Linked DNA regions of Homo sapiens. The protein of the gene in region 1 interacts with the protein of each later gene in a pairwise test. Each region holds a gene or a part of one and is shown in the gene's direction. Other genes may lie near its edges.

Region 1 (3,648 bases):
TCATTAGCTCCTAGAAGATAATCAATATATTTTTATTGAATTAGTTACTTATTAGATGAGGATGATTGGTAAATACCTAATTTTCTTTATAATCTGGCCACCCTTTTATTTGTTGAAAATTGAACTACCCATTTGAAACCTCAGAAAAGCTTGTTAAAAAGGACGGCTCATTCAGACTGGCCAATTAGAGTCTTAGTGTACTTGGCACTGCCTGATTTCCAGCAGCATCTCTGGTCCTCACCCTTCCTTCCAGCCACACCCTACTTTCCACATCCTGGACTTTGGACATGTCCATTGCTCTACTGTTGTGCCTTTTTCTGCTTGGAGACGCCTGTATGTAAAGCCTGATCTATCGGGCAGAGCTTCTTCTTCGTTATTCTCTTCCTAAGGCACTGTATTCATGACTTTTGTGTAGCACCTTTACTGTAGCCATCAACACACATGTCTCATCTCTACCACAAGATCTCTGAAAATAGGCCTCTGTGTGAACTAGTCACCTCTGTGTCCCCAACCCTTGAACACAGTATGTTACTCAGCCAGTGCTCTTGGTAAAAATGAATGTGAGGTTTTAAAACAGCAGTGTGCCAGTATTTGTTTTCTTGGAGTAATCAAAGTAATATTCTGACTAATGTTTAGTTGAATTTTGGATAAAGCTCAAAATAAGCATTGGATTCCCGTAGCTTTGGGTTTCTAAACCCTGGAAGTAATGAATGTGACAAATGTGAGACAGGATATTAGAGTTAATAGTGGGTAATCATTCCATTATTTGTGATCCACTGCACATCTGCTACACTGTACATGTTAGATGCTACAGTGACACAGAGCTATGGATCTTGCCTCAAAAAAGCTTATGGATGAGTAGCTAAGGTCAGCAGATAATGGTGACAATGCAGAATAGAAAGGGGTCAGAGGCCGAGTATGGTAACTCATGCCTGTAATCCCAGCACTTCGGGAGGCCAAGGTGAAAAGAGTGCTTGAGCCCAGGAGTTCAAGTCCAACCTGGACAACATGGTAAGACGCATCTCTCCAAAAAAAAAAAAAAATAGCCAGTCTTAATGGCGCTTGTCTGTGGTCCCAGTTACTTGGGAGACTGAGGCAGGAAGATCACTTGAGCCTAGGAGGTCAAGGGTACAGTGAGTTGTGTTCACGCCACTGCACTCCAGCCTGAGCGACAGAGCAAGACCCTGTCTCAAAAAGAGGGTCATGTCGGAAAAGGTCCTATTGAAAGAGGTCTGCCTAAGAGCTCTTGAAGGTTATTTAAAGGAAATTGTTACTAGTGGAGGGTAAGGAATCTTCTATTTTTATTTTTGTGAGACAGGGCCTTACTCTGTCGCATAGGCTGGAGTGCAATCGCGTGATTGTGGCTCACAGCAGCCTCCAACTTTTGGGGCTCAGGCAATCCACCAGCCTCAGCCTCCCAAGTAGCTGGGATTACAGGCATGTGTCACCACTCCGAGCTAATTTTTTTTTTTATCGTTTGTTTTTTTTTTTGTAGAGACAAGGTCTCTCTTTATTGCCTAGACTGGTCTTGAACTCTTGTCTTCAATCAATCCTCCCGCCTGGGTCTCCCAAAGTGCTAGGATTATAGGCGTGGAAAACTAAGGGAATGGTGTGGTAGATGGGCCCTTCAGGCGGAGGGGTATCACATGAGCAGGGAATAGAAAGGTACTGAATCTAGATAAGGCCTAGCAATCGGCTTGATTTGGCTGGAGTCAGAGGCTTTTGGCAGGAGAGGGATGAGTGGCAAAGTGCTATTGTGGCTAGGGGCTAGAGTTCTCAAAAGTCTAGCTAAGCCTAAAAGAATATTACTGAGGGTTGGCCAGGTGCGGTGGCTCACGCCTGTAATCCCAGCACTTTAGGATTCTGAGGCAGGCGGATCACAAGGTCAGGAGATCGAGACCATCCTGGCTAGCACGGTGAAACCCTGTCTCTACTAAAACTACAAAAAAATTAGCCAGCCGTGGTGGCGGGCGCCTGTAGTCCCAGTTACTCAGGAGGCTGAGGCAGGAGAATGGCATGAATCTGAGAGGCGGAGCTTGCAGTGAGCCGAGATCGTGCCATTGCACTCCAGCCTGGGCGACAGAGCAAGACTGTCTCAAAAAAAAAAAAAAAGAAACTGCTACAAGTATTGATTTGAGTGTTAGAAATTTTAATGAGTGGTTGAATTCACAGGTGTGATACCTGAGGATAATGAGGATTGGCTGTGTGTAGTCTTGCAGCCGTTGCACCTAGTTATGGAAAGTAGAGGCCAGTGAGAATCTTGTTTCCACAAATTTCACCCTGTTTTTTTTTTCATGGTAGTATTCATGCCTGATATTATTGATGAAGAGACTAGTATATTTTTGTGGCCTTTTGGAAAAAGGAGTTGGTCTGACATTGGAACAAGCCTACCAGCCAGAATACTTTATTCTAGCCCCAATTAATGTTTGATTTATTAGGAGCCTAAGAATGTGATGAACTTTGAAAATTTTTACCAATAATTTAACTGTAAGAAAAGTATGATCCATTAAAAATGTTTACCTGGCCTGGTGCGGTGGCTCACGCCTGTAATCCCAGCACTTTGGGAGGCCAAGGTGGGTGGATTACCTGAGCCCAAGAGATGGAGACCAGCCTGGGCAACATGGTGAAACCCCTCTCTACTAAAATATAAAATATTAGCTGGGTGTGGCGACATGCGCCTGTAGTCCCAGCTACTCTTGAGGCTGAGGCAGAATTGCTTGAACCCAGGAGGCGGAGGTTGCAGTGAGCCGAGATCATGCCATTGCTCTCCAGCCTGGGCAACAGAGTGAGACTCCATCTCAAAAAAATTTAAAAAAAAGTTTATCATCAGGCTCTTCATTTTTTGGCTGTTGATTTTTTTCCTTATTTTGAGAGTAGGCCTCAAAGAGCAGGAAGGCTATTCTTGATTAGGCGTACTTCAGGGCACAGTGACGCATCCACTGCCTCTTTTAAATCTCATCTGAGTCCTTATTTTTATTTTTTTATTTTTTTAAAGATAGGGTTGCACTTTGTCACCCAGGCTGGAGTGCAGTGGTGCAATAGCCCATTGTAACCTCGAACTCCTGGGCTTAAACAGTCCTCCCACCTCAGCCTCCCAGGTAACTAGGACTACAGGTGTATACCATCATGCTTGGGTAATTTTTATTTTATTTTATTATTTTTTTTTGAGACGGAGTCTCACTCTTGCCCAGGCTGGAGTGCAGTGGCGCGATCTCGGCTCACTGCAACCTCCGCCTCCCGGGGTCAAGCGATTCTCTTGCCTCAGCCTCCCAAGTAGCTAGGACTACAGGCACGTGCCACCACGTCTGGCTGATTTTTTGTATTTTTAGTAGAGACGGGATTTCACTGTGTTAGCCAGGATGGTCTCCATCTCTTGACCTCGTGATCCACCTGCCTTGGCCCCCCAAAGTGCTGGAATTACAGGCGTGAGCCACTATGCGAGGCCTAATTTTTAAAATTTTTGTATACAGATGGGGTCTTACTGTGTTCCCCAGGCTGGTCTCACACTCCTGTGCTCAAGCGCTCATCTTGCCTCATCTTCCCAAAGCGCTAGGATTATAGGCTTGAGCCACTGTACTATCCTGCAGAACAAAGGACAGGGAGATTAGACTAAAGGATGGAGGCTTGAGACATCATACCACAAGCAAG
Region 2 (4,219 bases), on another chromosome or scaffold:
CGTGCCATTGTGCTTCTGCACTCCGGCCTGGGTGACAGAGTGAAACTCTGTCATAAAAAAACAGAAACAAAAACAAAAAACCCGACCCGATTCTTGTCACAGTATGCCCATTTGCAAACTGTCCAGCCTACAGCCTAGGCCAAGGAACAGGACAAAACCTGGGATCCCGGGCAGGAGAGTTTGGTTTCCACCAAGTTTTACTTGGTTTATCTATTTATTAAACCCAAGGCTGACGGCTGCTTCTTGCTGCTGTTTATTAATAACGATTCCCAACACAGGCTCCTCAGGGGCAGCCGGGGAAGCCAGTCCCAGGGCACAGGCTGGCATCACACTCTGCCTCTGAGGGACCCCAGGCAGTCTGAGGCAGCCCTGGGGACATGAGTGCTTCCTTTCCCAGCCCCTTCCCTGGAAAGTGAAACCCATCGTGGCTTCCTCTCCCAGTCTTGGGGCTGCCGGGCTCAGCTTCGGTGGGGGCAGAGGACACAGAGGATGGACATCAGAATTGGGAGAGGCTCCAACATCCCCCAGGAAACTGAGGCCCCAGGGAGGCAGGAAAAACCAGCTCCAGGTGGCTGGCCGAGTTGGAGGCGGAACTGGGACCAGAATCCAAGTTTTCCCAGGGCCTCCTGAGGACAGGAACCTTTCCCCTGTGTTCCCTGGGAGTGCAACCGTTGTTATTGTCGCCAAGAATGGAGGCGGTAGCGTCAGACCTAGACTTTCTTGCACAGTATTGTGGCTCTTCCAGCAGCAGGCGGGGAGCCAGCAGGGCACACGGACCCAGCCATCGTGACCTAGATTCTGGGTTCAGGGGTAGAGACTTGTTTGCTAGTGGGTCGCACTGAGTCAGGCTCTTCTGTAGCACACCCCAGGTAACAGAGGTGCTGGGCGGCCTGAGCAAAGGGACAACTTTTTGCCACCCATGCCAGTGGGCAGTGGGTGCAGACACTCACAGCACAGGCACCTGCTGCGATGCACGCGGCGCCCACGGAAACCCGAGGCTGCCAGCCGCCGCCCTGGAGACCCCAGAGACAGCGGCAGATGCGTGTGCTTCAAGGGGCAGCGTGGCTGCTGGGGCGCTCCCTAAAGGGCAGTGGCACGGGGTCGCGCCGCGAGCAGAGGGGCGCGGGTGGGCGCGCAGGAGTTAGCGAACTGACACGGAGGCGCCAGGCGGACGCACGGACGCACCGAGGGCCGCAGGGCCGCACAGCCGGGCACACATCGTCGCGCAGCGGTTCAGGCTCGGGGGCCTCCTCGGCGGAGGCGGCCAACTCTCACCCTCAGCGCGGGGAGGGGCGGGCGCCGGGGGCGGGGCGGCGCCGTCCGGGCCCTCCCCCTGCCCCGCCTCGGGTCGGCGTCCTTAGCCGCTGGCGCGTTGTTGGTTTCGGGTTGTCAGGCAGCGCGCGAGGCGGCGGGCAGCTAGCAGCTGGCGGACGCGACCCGGAGGCGGTGGGGGTGCGGCTGAGCCATGCCCGGTGGCGCGGCCTGAGCCCCTCCACCTGCTGCAATCATGAAGGACAGCGGGGACTCCAAGGACCAGCAACTCATGGTGAGACCCTTTTAGACCCTCCTCCCCACCCCGCTCCGTGGTCTACTTCAGTCGGCCTCCAGCGACAGAGTCCTGTCCCCTCGCCGCCACCCCACTGAGAGGACAGGCAACGACCAGGGCCGGGACTCTTCAGAGCAACTTTCCCCAAGTCCTGCAGGATGGGTGTCAAGAAGGGACCATGGCCTTTTTAGACTTTCCTGAGCCTGAAAATTACCCCAACTTCAACCCCACCCCCACCTTTCCACCCTCCCATTGGGAGATCCCGCCCCCAAAGCGTGCGCAGATGAATCTCGGCTCTCTCATCCAGAAACGCCAGGGGCAGGGAGGGCTTGACCTAACTGCCCCCAGAAGGAGGGTGGCGGTTTCCCAGTTAATCAGAGGCTGCTCCAGCCCTGGTGAGGTCAGGAGTTTAAAGGGATGTGGGGGTCACCAGTAGGAAGACAAGGGCCCCTGGTGTCAGGATGGGGCCCGGAGTGCCTGGTTCTTGGGCTGCAACACGGATGCTGCCCAAGTCCGGATTCGAAGTAGTTCAGAGAAGTGCTAGATGCAGCTACCATGGCCCCACAGAGCCCTGGGGCCTGGGACAGATGGGGAGGTGAGAGTGGGGGCTGTGGAGGGGAAGGTGGAATTCCTGATCATCAGTGGTGCCTGGGCCAGAGCAACAAGGGAGATGACTCAGTGACCTCGAGGCCACCACTAGGCTGTGGGTGGGTGGGTGTCTCTCTCAGCAAGCCCCTTCCTCATCCCCTAATTTTTGAGGTCTGGGGAAGGGCCCTCATCACCAGAAGGTGGGCAGTAAGGTAACTGGAGGATAATGTTGCTCCCAGAGTCCCCTACCTCTCAAGGGTGGGCTTGCTTCTCTGAAAGGAGCCTCAGCTCCAGCCCCCAAGCAAGCCCTGGGCTCTAGGACATCCTCTCTGGCTTTTTAGAATGTGTCTCTTTGAAAATCACTGGCCTTGGCATGTATTGTGTGCCCCGGGGAGCAGGGATGAAGGGTCCTCCCCTCCCGCCAGTGGAATTTGGCTGAAGATGCCACTAAAGGTGACCCGTCAGGTAGTGTAGTTCCCTCTGAAAGTGCCTTTTGTTTTGTTTTGTTTTGTTTTTCTTTTTTGAGACGGAGTTTCACTTTCTCACCCAGGCTGGAGTGAAGTGGTGCGATCTCAGCTCACTGCCCCTCAAGTTCAAGCGATTCTCCTGCTTCAGCCTCCCGAGTAGCTGGGATAACAGGCATGCACCACCACGCCCAGCTAATTTTTGTATTTTTAGTAGAGACGGTGTTTCGCCGTGTTGGCCAGGCTGGTCTCGAACTCCTGACCTCAGGATCCGCCCACCTCGGCCTCCTAAAGTGCTGGGATTACAGGCGTGAGCCACCACGCCAGGCCTGAAGGAGTCTTCACTCGGCCAGAGGGCCGTTCATTCTATCCCCACACCCAGCAGCTGTTGCCCTTTGATCAGCACAAGACGTGCTCCCCACTCCACCCTGTTCTTTAGGGAGATCCACGCACAGGATGAGACCCATTTCACACTGGCTGGAGGACAGGCAGATGGGGGTGGGCGCTCTAGGTGACACTCTCCTCGGTGTAGGAATGTGGTCACAGGCTGTTGGGATGATGGGGGACATTCCCTGCTCCATCCCACCTACCAGGCCTCATCCCAGAGCCGTGCCTGCACCTTCCTCTGCAGCACGTCATTCGCGGAAACACAGAGAGGCTGCTCCAGTGCCAGGGCCCCAAGTTCAAGCCCAGGGGAGCTGCGAGTGTTTTATTTGGGCGTGAGGCTGAGGCAGGCTGGAGGAGCAGACAGCTCTCTCCCCTGGGGCTCTCCCGGAGGCCAGGGCTCCTGGGGAGACTCATCAACTCAGACACAGTCCAACACTCTGTGGACCTGCTGCCCTCTGACCTAGGTAGAGTTTTACTTAGGACAAGGGAGGCCTGAGATGGCTGAATGCTAGAGAAGCCAGGGGCTTGCTTGAGGTCTCTCTGAGGCCCAGCATGGTCCTCTCCCTCTAATCCCAGGGGCTTGGTTTTCCCTCCCAGGTGGCGCTTCGGGTCCGGCCCATCAGCGTGGCAGAGCTGGAGGAAGGAGCTACCCTCATCGCCCATAAAGTGGATGAGCAGGTATGCAGGGCTCTGCAGCAGGAGCTGCAGGGCAGAGGTCTGCTCAGATGGCTCAGCTCACCTGGTGAGGGCAGAAAGGGCCCCTGTGGCTTGCAGCACCCTCCTTCCTCTACTCACTGAACTCTTGGCTGTGCTGTTGATGACATCACCAAGGAAGCTGGGGGCTCTTCTTCCAGGAAGCCTTCCTAGATTGATCCAAGGACAACTGGGAGCTTCCCTAGCCTGGGTGGGCCCTGATCCTTTACCTTTCACATGCTCATTGCTTGACTTTCCCACCCTAATATGCCTGCTGCCCACAGAGCACATATATATATGGTTGAGAGCTAAAGCTCGCCTCTAGGGTGTAACGTGTGGCAAAATCCTCGCTCTCTGTTTGCAATCTTGGTCCTCATGTCACCAGGATGAGGAAGGCAGGGCACACGAGGCAATAAGTGTGTATCAAGTACCAGCAGCATGCTGGGTACTGTTCTAGAAACTGGGAAACTGTGGTGAACAGAAAAGGCCCTGTCCTCTCTCCATTACCTTAAGTCTAGTGTGAAGAGATGAGGCATTCATC
Region 3 (3,648 bases), on another chromosome or scaffold:
GTCTCCATAGCCAACACTGTCACTTCTCCTTTATTATATTCATTGGAAGCAGTCACTAAGTCCAACCTACATTCAAAGAGAGAGGAACCAGACTCTATTTATTAAAGGAAAGAGTGTTGAAGAATTTGTAGATCTGTTTTTAAACCACCATATAACCCATCAGTTAGAAATTCTCAGGTGGTATCAGCTTGAAGTAAATAGATCCTCTTTGCAGACTGCATCCAATTGGTTACCCAGCACACATGAACACAACTACCTATAACTACACAGTTTAAATCTATGTCAAATCATTGATCTCCAGAATGCCACCTACAGAATTTCCCTTCTACAAAATATGCACCTCAGTGACTCTAAAATATCAGAGATATAACGTGAATATATTAGAACTCAATGAATATTTGTCAAATTGAAGGGAGTTACAATATAAGAGATCCCAACCCAGGCTTTGGCAGGCAAGATCTGCTCTTGCTTTTTCATAACTCCTTCACTAAAAAAAAAGAAAAAAAGAAATGAGGATTTATTCCAACCCACACGATAAACAGAGTAACCAATTTGGGTGTATGAGGGGAATTTGCTTGGCAGATAGCAGAATTACAAATAACCTCTGTTTCCTACCACCAATCTAACATGGTGTTCTCAGTTTAAAGAATTGGAATATTCATTTATATTCTGATGTTCATGAACATAAATGAAGTCAAACCCTAGTCTAGACAATCTTTATGGCAATTGCCAGAATGTTTGGGCTCATCTCAGATAATGTGTCTATAGCCTCCTCATGATTCCAACCCTGAAGGGCTGTAACATAACCAAGCCCATTTCATCGGAGTTTGTTTAAAGCCTAGTCCAAGGCATCCATTCAGTGAACATTCCATAAGGGCAAAGCTGATCTCAGGCAAAACAGTACCTTAGCTAAAGTTTGGATTTGCTATACCCATTTTCCCTCTCCACTTCCACCTCACTCAGGACCATTCCAAGCTGGGACGAGGAGATTGGTAAGATATGAAAGAGGAGAGGGAGATGACTCTCTAAGAAGTCCCAGCTACGCCACTTCCTAGCTTTGTGATTTGTGCAAGATTTTTGCCTTTTCTGAGATTCGATATCATCGTTAGATAATTCAGAATTTGAATCTCTATAGATAAGGATAATTTTCCATTGTTATCAGTTATTTACAATTTACAGAGTTGTAAAATAGCTCCCACAGAAACAAAAGCGGATAACCAGAATGATAAGCTATAGACAGTGCATACTTTTCATATGGCATAAATTTCTCCTTACAGACATTTGAGATTTAAAAAGTAACAATTGTTTCATAAAATGTCAATTTTTTTTAGCTGTTAGCCAGGGACATGTAGAGGTTAAAATACACTTAACCAAATGATAATAGGTTAGGTGGGGCAAACAGGCTTTGTTCATTTCTAGGACATGGTAGTACCACCCTGTTTCCATCCTGTGTTAGTCAGTCTTGGATGTGGAACTTGTGAACAGATTTATAAAACTTCTTTCAACCTGAGTAACAAAAGACTCTTAGAATCCAAGTCTATGGAAGATAGACCAATGGAAGATTGTCTTCCTTTGAAGACAAAAGAAAGACCAAAAGTGCTCCTCTTTAGCAGGAATTCTAACCAAATGAAACATTGGCTGGGTTCAGGTTCAGTTTAAGGAATGTTTTGATGTTCTACTTCATTGGAAAATATACAGGTTTGATTCTGGTTTGAACAAGTTTGCTAGATATCTATATCTATATCTATATGGTCAAATTCATGGTTCAGTTAATAGCTAGGTTCATTCTGACTTGAGGTTTAGTAAATTGATGCTATTTGGTCTGTAATTTGTGCTATAATTTGATTCTTTATTCCTTAGTCTTTAGACCTTAAGTTGTCCCTTTCCTGTTCTGCCCCATGAATAAATCAAATCCTTCTACTTTATTTCCTTCAAGTTCAATCCTCACTTCTGCCAATATTGAGTTTGCCCCAAATGGAATGTCTGTTGCTAAGCCCTAAACTCAAGTTAAGTAAGGATTTTGTTGTCTATATAATATTTCTGTAAGGAGCTCATTTTCACCGGGCAGAACTGATGGACTCTTAGAATCCAAGTCATATTAGCTATGTCTGTCTTTAAATCAGGCCATGGAACTGTGGTAAAAAAGATAAAATCTGAGCCCAGGAGGCTCCTATGGGATATTTGAAAAAAGCTTATGCAGTGCCACACTTTGATTAACCCCGGACTTGCCATTTTGATGAGCGAAGGTAAGCCTGGCTTCAGAACTAAAGAAAGACATGTCTCTCTCTGTTTCCATTTCAGCCATTAATGTGTTAATTTTCCCTTTATGTAACTTTGTCCCCAGTTGAATTGAATTGAATTAAAAGGACAAAATAGCTAGTTGCTGGGAAGGAATCTTTCTCTTTCTTTCTTTTTTTTTAAGGAGCCCCCGAAGGAAGCTAATTACCCACCCTGGTAGGCTGAGAGAATTGTAATGTGATAATTAGTTTGCTATTCTTCAACAGTAAGTCATTGTTGTAGCAATCCAATGTTCTCCATTCCCCTTCCCCCAACTCATGTGCACCTATTTCTGAAAGTCCGATCTTTTCCGTTCCCAAATTCATAAGAAAGAAAGCCTTCTCTAACAAAATATACAGCCTTTAGAAGGGGAGGTCAAGGGACACAAAACAGCAGGGTTCATGAAAGACCTGTATCCCAGGGTCCTTCTTTTCTGAAACTAGTAGGCTGCTTTGGGTTGCCTAAGATAGAGGGACTTGGTCATTCTGACCTTCCTGAAAGTGACTGTCTAGACCAGCTCTGCTCAATAGAAATAGAATGTGAGCCATAAATGTAAATCATGTATGTGATTTTACATTTTCTAGTAGCCACATCTTAAAAAGTTAAAAAATGGGCAAAATTAATTTTGACATATTTCATATAATGATACATTCAAGATATTATCATTTTAACATATAATTAATGTAATAAATTACACATTCTTTGAAATTGAGTTGTATTTTACACTTACAACGTATCTCAGTTCTGACTAGCCGCACTTCAAATGTTCAACAGCCATGTGACTATTGGCTACTGTTTTAAACAGCACAAGAATACCTTTCTTCTCTAGCTAAGAGAGATTCATGATAACAATCTTTTTACGTGAATTAGATGCTATGCACTTTGCAAAATATTTCCAAATCTATTACCTCAGTTGTTCCTCATAATTGCACTATGAATTAAGTTGGAAATTGATAATTATCTTTTTTTTTCATTGGGGAACTAAGATACAAAGTTTAGGATCTTGGGATCTTCCATGTCACACATTACTTAGCACCCAAGAGCCAGAACATCGCTCTCCTGACTTCCCAACAAGCATTATTCGCAGTGTCCCACTGACACACAGTAGTTAGTATGTGGGATGTGCTGTCTGGTGAATGCAAAGGTCTACGTTGGATGGTCCTTGCTTCTTGGCTTCTTTTCCCCTTCTCCCATCTCCAGGCTAGGGAGGTGGAAAGGCAAGGGGTGGGTTGGTGTCTGTGTCATTTCCTTTGTGCTGCTTTGAGCAAAGTCCCACAAGTAATTAGGTGCCTTTCAGTGCTACAGAGCACTGAAACAAGACAGCTTAGACATTCCTTCAGCTCCCCTAGCTCCCCTACCAGCAACTCCAAA

Evidence for each region.
Region 2: the proteins of RBM5 (region 1) and KIF19 interact in a two-hybrid assay, tested with the Homo sapiens proteins (one large-scale study listed by BioGRID).
Region 3: the proteins of RBM5 (region 1) and DCX interact in a two-hybrid assay, tested with the Homo sapiens proteins (one large-scale study listed by BioGRID).

Annotation. Positions count from the first base shown.
Region 1 is NC_000003.12:50,095,297-50,098,944, forward strand, and holds part of RBM5 (RNA-binding protein 5), read left to right. Parts: intron 1-3,648. UniProt on the Homo sapiens protein: Component of the spliceosome A complex. Binds to ssRNA containing the consensus sequence 5'-AGGUAA-3'. Regulates alternative splicing of a number of mRNAs.
Region 2 is NC_000017.11:74,324,843-74,329,061, forward strand, and holds the start of KIF19 (kinesin-like protein KIF19), read left to right. Parts: upstream 1-1,383; 5' UTR 1,384-1,507; coding exon 1,508-1,546; intron 1,547-3,582; coding exon 3,583-3,663; intron 3,664-4,219. UniProt on the Homo sapiens protein: Plus end-directed microtubule-dependent motor protein that regulates the length of motile cilia by mediating depolymerization of microtubules at ciliary tips.
Region 3 is NC_000023.11:111,325,060-111,328,707, reverse strand, and holds part of DCX (neuronal migration protein doublecortin), read left to right. Parts: intron 1-3,648. UniProt on the Homo sapiens protein: Microtubule-associated protein required for initial steps of neuronal dispersion and cortex lamination during cerebral cortex development. May act by competing with the putative neuronal protein kinase DCLK1 in binding to a target protein.